Linked DNA regions of Homo sapiens. The protein of the gene in region 2 interacts with the protein of the main gene of each other region in a biochemical or structural test. Each region holds a gene or a part of one and is shown on either strand. Other genes may lie near its edges.

The links.
Region 1: the proteins of MYO10 (region 2) and RAPH1 form a complex in vitro, tested with the Homo sapiens proteins (one large-scale study listed by BioGRID).

The regions. Positions count from the first base shown.
Region 1 is NC_000002.12:203,455,191-203,459,001, forward strand, and holds part of RAPH1 (ras-associated and pleckstrin homology domains-containing protein 1), read right to left. Parts: intron 2,406-3,811; coding exon 2,340-2,405; intron 391-2,339; coding exon 247-390; intron 1-246. UniProt on the Homo sapiens protein: Mediator of localized membrane signals. Implicated in the regulation of lamellipodial dynamics. Negatively regulates cell adhesion.
Region 2 is NC_000005.10:16,933,208-16,937,573, forward strand, and holds the start of MYO10 (unconventional myosin-X), read right to left. Parts: upstream 3,082-4,366; 5' UTR 2,602-3,081; coding exon 2,581-2,601; intron 1-2,580. UniProt on the Homo sapiens protein: Myosins are actin-based motor molecules with ATPase activity. Unconventional myosins serve in intracellular movements. MYO10 binds to actin filaments and actin bundles and functions as a plus end-directed motor.

The DNA.
Region 1 (3,811 bases), on a different chromosome or scaffold from region 2:
AACAACAAATAAAACTATGATTTCAAATTTGGTAAAGAGAACTGAGATAGGCTCAACTAGTGACCAGAGAAGTAAGAACTTTCAGGTTTCTTCTTCTTTATAATAGATTAATAAACAAAGCAATATTCTATGTCTTCCACGAACTGAAACAAATCATAGCCTGGGTTCACCTTGTCAGCATACTCAATACAAATTAAAAGCAATTAGCATAATGAGGAAGTTCAAATTCCAACAGAAGGGACACACCTTTGCTTTTCCTTTGGGAACATAGTAGATACCAGATGCTCGCAAGAGAAAATAACGCTTTTTCCAGGACTTCTTGCCATCATCCTTCAACCAAAGGACTCCTTCAATTTCTGGTACAGTTACAGAACTTCCACAAAAACATTCCTAAAATAACAAGATTATTTGCAAAGACTTATGATCGTTGGATTCTCAGAACAAAGTTGTGTTTACTCCTGTGAAATGCATGACAGTTATTAAACCAAAATGGTTTTATATTAAAACCAAGCTGCTAATTTAACCTCAATTAGAACTTTCCAGCCAGGTGTAGTGGCTCATGCCTGTAATCCCAGCACTTTGGGAAGCGGGTGGATCACTTGAGGTCAGGAGTTCAAGACCAGCCTGGCCAACATAGTGAAACCACGTCTCTACTTAAAAAAAAAAAAAAAAGCCAGGCATGGTGGCGCGAGCCTGTAGTCCCAGTTATGTGGGCAGCTGAGGCACAAAAATTGCTTGAACCTGGGAGGCGGAGATTGCAGTGAGCTGAGATCACACCACTGCACTCCAGCCTGGGCAACAGAGCGAGACTCTGTCTCAAAACAAAAACAAAAACAAAAACAAAAACAAAAACAAGACAAAACACTTTCTATTCTAAACACAATATGAATTTGGAACTACTATGGCAATCCTAAAATGTTTATTAAATAAAAATGCCAGTCATACATGTAATACTGAATTTTTACCTACAAACTTTTAACTAAAACACTGTTTCGGAGAAAAACTAAGTTGACACATGAACTGAGTTGCATGTAACAGTAGTTAAATACCTTTGCAAACAGCACAGTTACACTAAATTTAATAAAACTGTCAGGGCAAACCAAGCGTTAGACTTTATTTTTTCTCTACATTTAGATTAGCTGTCAAACTAAACAGGAATATATTTTAAAAGAATGCAACGTGCTAAGTGTATGATTAAACTTTAAGAATTTAAAAACTATCCATTTATGTGACTCTAAGACAAAGAGGGCATTTATTTAAAAAATAATACTAGGTTGAAAGGACTATAAACACTCAAAATTCTAAGTTCTAAACACTATGCTTTGATAAAAATCTAATATTAAAGAAATCAATCATGTATTTGTGAAAGAAAAGAGAAATCCTCAGAAAACACTAATATAGGACATTTGGGCCTAAATTAATTTTTCTCCTCAAAGTACAGAAAAATTAGGAATTACAAGGCAGATTTTTACTTAACCGTAGTTAGTATCACTATGAAAACTGAATGTTGATCTTCGCTTCCTAATTGCCTTGCTGGTAAGTAAGGGTTTATTCAGGTTTTCAAGTATACTAAGTTATTTGATTTTAGTTCTATAAAATCAGCCAAAAATTCAATTATATTTTTCCAAAAAATGATCATGATTTTAAAAATTATTTAATTATTTAAGGATAAGGCTGGAAATAATTTGTGAACAGCTAATTATATTCAAATTTCTCTCTGAGTAAGCAGATAAAAACAGCAAAACCACATCCTTCATTGACCAGCCACCTCTCCCACTTGGCAGCCCCTAAAAGCTCATTATTCTTAGATCACTAGAATATGGCTTGGCAAAATAATAAAGGGTCTTCAGTGGCCTAACACGTTCACACAGTTGAACTCTCTCCCTCATACTATCAAAGAATACACAGGCTTCTTTAATTAAAATTGTAACTACAAATATAGAACACTGACATACTTGACTTCAAAAAGGTATTTAATATTTTATTTTATTTATTTATTTATTTATTTATTTTATTGAGACAGAGTCTCACCCTGTTGCTAGGCTGGAATGCAGTGGTGCAATCTCGGCTCGCTGCAACCTCCGCATCCCGGGTTCAAGCAATTCCCTGCCTCAGCCTCCCGAGTAGCTGGGATTACAGGCGCCCACCACCACGCCTGGCTAATTTTTTTATTTTTTAACAGACAGGGTTTCACCATCTTGGGCAGGCTGGTCTTGAACTCCTGATCTTGTGATTCACTCACCTCAGCCTCCCGAAGTGTTGGGATTGCAGGCGTGAGCCACCATGCCTGGCCTAATATTTTAATTTTTAAATGTGCAGGAAAATGGGGGTTGTCATACCTCCAAGAGGACTTCTTTGTTTCTATCTGCCATCTCAGCTGTTTCTTTTTTCCCCAAAAGATAATTCTGGAAAAACAAACATATGGAAGGGATGGGTGGGAGAGAAAAAAAGAAGGTTAAAGCATAAATCCATTCTGTTATTCCCTTGGCACAGGTGTGTGTATGTTTTCTTCTAGAGAAATAGCAACTCTGATTTCTGTTGGTATAGAGTAGAATAAACTTTGAAAAGTTACCTGTGTATGGGCATCATCACTAAAATGCTTAACACCAGTCTCCTCCTTGCCTGTCCACTTGTCATAAACTGTCCTTACCCAGACTGTGAGGTGGTATTACATTCAACAGCTGGCAAATATGTTTTGGGATATCTAATGAAAGCTACGTTAGAGGATCTGAAAGGTTTAGAAATTCATAAGTACAACAAGTAAGGCAAATTTCCTTAAAATATACTGATCTAGGTGCAGAAAATTTATGTTCTGGCTTTTTAAGAAGAAATCCCATATTCTCTGGGACTCATTTATTAATAATCTCATTTACTTGACTCAACTAAAAATCTGAATTCTGGCTGGGTGCAGTGGCTCACACCTGTAATCCCAGCACTCTGGGAGGCCAAGGCGGGTGGATCACGAGGTCAGAAGTTCAAGACCAGCCTGACCAACACGGTGAAACCCCGTCTCTACTAAAAATACAAAATTAGCCAGGTGTGGCAGCACGCACCTGTAGTCCCAGCTATGCAGGAGGCTGAGGTAGGAGAATCGCTTGGAGGCGGAGGTTGCAGTGAGCCAAGATCACGCCACTGACTCCAGCCTGGGCAACAGAGCGAGACTCCATCTCAAAAAAAAACAAAAAACAAACAAACAAAAAAATCAAACTGAAGTCTACTCATTAGTACACAGTCATCCCTTGTTGTCCATAGGAGATTGATTCTAGGATCTCCCCTGTATACCAAAATCTGCTGATGCTTAAAGTCACTTATAAAAATGGGGTCACATTTGCATATAACCTATGCACATTCTCCCTTGTACTTTAAATAATCTCTAGATTACTTACAATACCTAATACAATGCCTACCTATCATTTAATTTGCATGAATTCAATGCAGTACTCAAGCGTGGCATATTCAAGTTTTGTTTTTTAGAACCTGGAATTATTTTTCTGAATATTTTAGATCTGCAGTTGTGCAAATCCACAGATGCAGAACCCATGGATATAGAGGGCTGACTGTACTTCTTTTTCTTTTTCTCTTTTTTTTTTTGGAGACGGAGTCTCACTGTCACCCAGGCTGGAGTGCAGTGGCACAATCTCGGCTCAGTGCAAGCTCCGACTCCCGGATTCACACCATTCTCCTGCCTCAGCCTCCCAAGTAGCTGGGACTACAGGCGCCCGACACCACGCCCGGCTAATTTTTTGTATTTTTAGTAGAGACAGGGTTTCACCGTGTTAGCCAGGATGGTCTCGATCTCCTGACCCTGTGA
Region 2 (4,366 bases):
GACCTTTCGGGTTGTCACAACTTGGGGGATAGGGTTAACAATTACTGAGTAGAGTCCAGGGATGCGTTTAACCTCCTACAACACACAGGACGGCCTCCAACAACAAAGAATTACTCAGCAATGGTACCAGGTTTGAGAAACCCTGGTCTAGCTAGAAATAGCAGTTGCGAATCACAAGCAGCTCCCATTTCCTTATTATTTGGCCATTCATACACAAAGCTAAACAGGCAACATCTCATTCAGTAATTTTTCCCCAATTGTTAGCACTGGCTTTAAACTGTTGTCCAACAAGCAACAAGTCATTTACCCCTAAGCCACAATGGGAAAAGTTAGCAAAGACAGAATTCTACTTAGTGATAAGGAGGCCAAACAATTTAGCTGTCCTTGGGGAATATATCACTTCCACACTCGCTGTTTCTATTCTAACAGGACATTAATTACAGCATTTTCTTCACTGGACAATTTAACAAAAGGATGCTCCATTACAAGACATGAGAGAGAGAAAGGGGAGCTGGGATCTATGTTAAGAGTATGTCTACAATTAATACCTCACTATTTAACCTCTCTGACTGGCCCTGCTTCCTTCCCACTCAAAGTGATTAGATTTAAGGGTGGAACTTTCACGGCTGATTAGAAGTTAATATTGTAATACACATACATCACAAGATTAAAAGTATAACCTTAAAATAAGCGAAAAGTTCCCAGAAATACCAAAGTCACCAGCAGCAAAGGAAAAAGGCTCTGGATTCGTGAACAAGCTCTTCAAAGCTGGGCAAGGGACTTACTCATATCTTTGGGTTAAGATTCTGTCTACAAAATGAAGAGGAGAAAGTAGAAGATCACTAATGGCCAACTGCAAAATAATATTGATCACAGAAATAAAATCCAACAACCAGGCCCCTTACACTGAACTAAGGTATCCAGTGCAAGATGAAAAGAGTACTTTGAAAAGTCAAAGTCTCACCGGGTAACAGGAGATCAGGACGCTGTAGCGCGTTATCCTGATGTTCCCCCCACTTGCACTAGGGGGCAGAGTTCTCCCCAAGGGGGAGCCACGGACCCCTGTGGTGCTCAGACAGGCTACAGGAGGAGTGAGATCCGTGCAAACTGAATACAAATTTCTATATTTTCATCAGATTTTCTAAGGGACCCAGAACACAAAAACAACAAAGTTAAGAATCATTGCCCTAGGGGCAGGGCCTCCGTTTTCTTACAGATGCAAGCAATTAAACACCGGAACTCACTGTAGCCCGAGGGTCCTTTACCACTGGACAACGTGCAACTCTTGCAGAAAGTTCTGGTGCCTTTCGACAAGCATGAAAACAAAAGTCTATGGACTAGAAAATGCGAGCGTCTCACAATTATATATATTTCACTTTTTTTAAGAAAAGGAAAAATATGTATTGATGGATAATTCCTTTCTAGTCTTCCTTCCACAATGAATGTGGGTATCACATCTGAAACACCACTTTTAAAAACTAGATATGACTACTAAACAAGAATGCATTTATCACTTTGGCCAGTATGAATAGCTGTCTGAGAATACAGTCAGTGAGCATGCAGAAAGCAGAATGACTTGAAATATTATATCCAATTAAATCAGATAAACCAAGTCGGCTAACACAGAGGCAAGCCCTCATCAATCTGATTTGCTGGAAGACTCCAAAGCGGTTCTGCACTCAGAAAACATTCCCTGGCTTTCAACGAAAATCACATCAGACTCTCTCAAGTCAACTAAGTTTACTTTGAGCCACTTCAAACCTCAAACTTAAACAGAATTTATTAAATAAACACAACCAAGAAAGGAAAGGGAGCCAAGAAACCACAGTAAGTCTCGATCCCAAAGGGGGAAAAAGGGTTCTCAAGTTAAGTTTCAGTGTCCCACCCTCAACGACCCTAAAGAGGGCATCCGTTTCATCTATTAAAATAGCCACTGTTTGCCCTAAACGAATTTTCTTTACATTCGAATTCAAAATCTGCATGGACACTCTACACAAATACATGATCATTTGATCCCAGGGTCTGGAGTTATCCCAAGCCTTAAAAGAGCACTTCTCGGCGAGCAAAGTAACCGATTAAACCCTTGCCTCTCCTTCTCACACTTCATTAAGCCGTCTCCTCTGGAAGTGTTTGAACCCCTGCACAGGAAGCCCGCACGTTTTGCAAAGGAAATACCAGACAAGACCTTTCTTGGAGAAAGGCAGGTCCCCGCTGAACATTTTATTGGGCTTCCTGCACCCGGGCAGTCGAGCGGGCGGATCGCCCCGCCCGCGCCCCGGCGCGCGCCGCCTCACCTGGCGCGGGTGTCCCAGGGCGCCCCGAGAGCCAGCCACCCACGCAAACGGAAACGCACCTTCGCTACCTCCCGGAGCAAAATGCGAGCGCGGGACAGGACGAAACAAAACCTGCCCGGGCTTACTCATCAGAGACTCCGCGGGGGGATGGGGGGTGATTTCAGGAGACTCCCAGAAAGTTGCGCCTTCCAGGGCTTAGGAAAAAGTACCCAGGGCGCGCGGCGTGGTGGGCAGACGCCTCTCTCCCTGGGCTCCGGAGGCCAGGTCGGACTGGGAGCGCACTTACCTCGGTGAAGAAGTTATCCATTGTTCCAGCGCAGTCCCGGACTCGCCGAGTGCCGCTCCGACTCGCGGAAGTCAGCGCCGCCGCGGGTCCGGGGAAACCATGCGTGTCACGGCGCCACTCCCGAGGACGCGCGCCCGCGGGGCTCCCCTGCTGCCATCGCCCGGTCCCTTCTTGTCCTTCTCACCTTTTGTTCGCCCAAACCCAAGTCCCTAACTCGCCCGTCCCGACGGCAGCCTTTGTCTCTTCTTCCTCCAAGTTCCTCACTACTGGGCGCAGCGCTCGCAAGCGGAGAACAGCTGGTGGCACATTCTTCCCCCAGGCGGGGGAAGGCGGCGGGGTGCTGGCGAGCGCGGCCCCCTCCCTCTGCGCTCCGGCCGGGGGCCCTCGGGGCGGGCAGGAGGACAGCGGGCCGCAAAGTGAGCAGGAGCCGCGATCCCCGCGCGAGCGCTTGGAGGTGAGCAGTCCCGCGCCGCGGCTCAGCCAGCTCTCGCCCGCGGGACTACAGCCCAGCGACCTCGCCCCGCCCTCCCGCAGCCGGCCCCGCCCTCCCGCAGCCGGCCCCGCCCTCCCGCTCGCGGCCCCGCCCCCAGGAGCTTGGCCCTCCGCCAACCACACCGTCTGGCCCCGCCCGGGCGGAGCGCCCCGCCCCCTTCCCGACCAGGCCCCGCCCACTCTAAGCCCGAAGCAGCCGCAGGCTCGTTAGCGGACCCGGGAGGGGGCCGCGTGTTTCCCCAGGTCTTCCCACGTAGGCGTGGGGAGGGGATTTAACTCTTCCCTCTGCAGAGAGAGACTAAACAATCACTTAGAGGGGAGGAGAAGGGACTGGGGGCTTCTGTGCCTTTCATGTTTAGCAGACCCGGGAACCGGCTCAACACGGATCTCATTAATGCAGCCCGGTAGACTAGCAATCTCGGGAAGGAAGCGCGGTCAGCGGAGCTGCCGGGGCTGCGGGGCCAGATCAAAGCGGAAGACGGAGGCTAATCAGAATTTCTGGAAGCTGCATTCCCGTGTTGACTTTCTGTCCTGCAGTCGGGTTTGCTTAAGACGTTTGCGTAACAGCGGGGAAATGTAGTTTTGAAACTGGAAGGGGACGTGGCCAATATCACCTTTAAAAATGTAACCCTTTTCTAGACCTCAAGGAAGCAGAGATGGCAGATGGCACTGAGATGGACGAATGATCAAACCCACCTGGCACTGAGTCCCGTTTCCCCTAGGGCAGTTCTTTTAACTTTATGCTGTGCGAGGGTCACCTGGGAACCTTGTTAGAACGCAGGCTGGAACAATCTGCTTTCCAGGTGCCCCTCAGGTGCTACCTGGTCCTGTGCTGAACGAAAGCTTGTAACAAGTAGAGAAATTAAGAGTAAACGTTTGTAGCAATTTAATAATGCCACGACATCCAAGCACATGATCAGTGGACTCTTTGAACCGAGTATAAACCAGTTTGGGTGTTGTCAGACTCACGTGGTGAGTCACACCTGGCGCCGCAGTGTATTGGTACCTGGCCGACTGGGAACAAAAATGGCTGGTTCTTCAGCACAAAAGATTTGAGATGCTCTCTCCAGGGAATTTGCCAACTGCTACTCAACCTTTAAAACTCAGCTCACAAAGTCACACCTTCCAGGGGAAGGAACCCTTCCCAAAGATGCTACTCCACTCACCCCACCCAAGCTCCCCGTAACCACTGGGCTAGATGCCCACTCTAGGATTTATTCCTAAGACTGTTGGGGAAGGACTGTGCTTTAAGATGAGTATCCCCAGGCTGTCTCACAGCATGAATGAATGAATG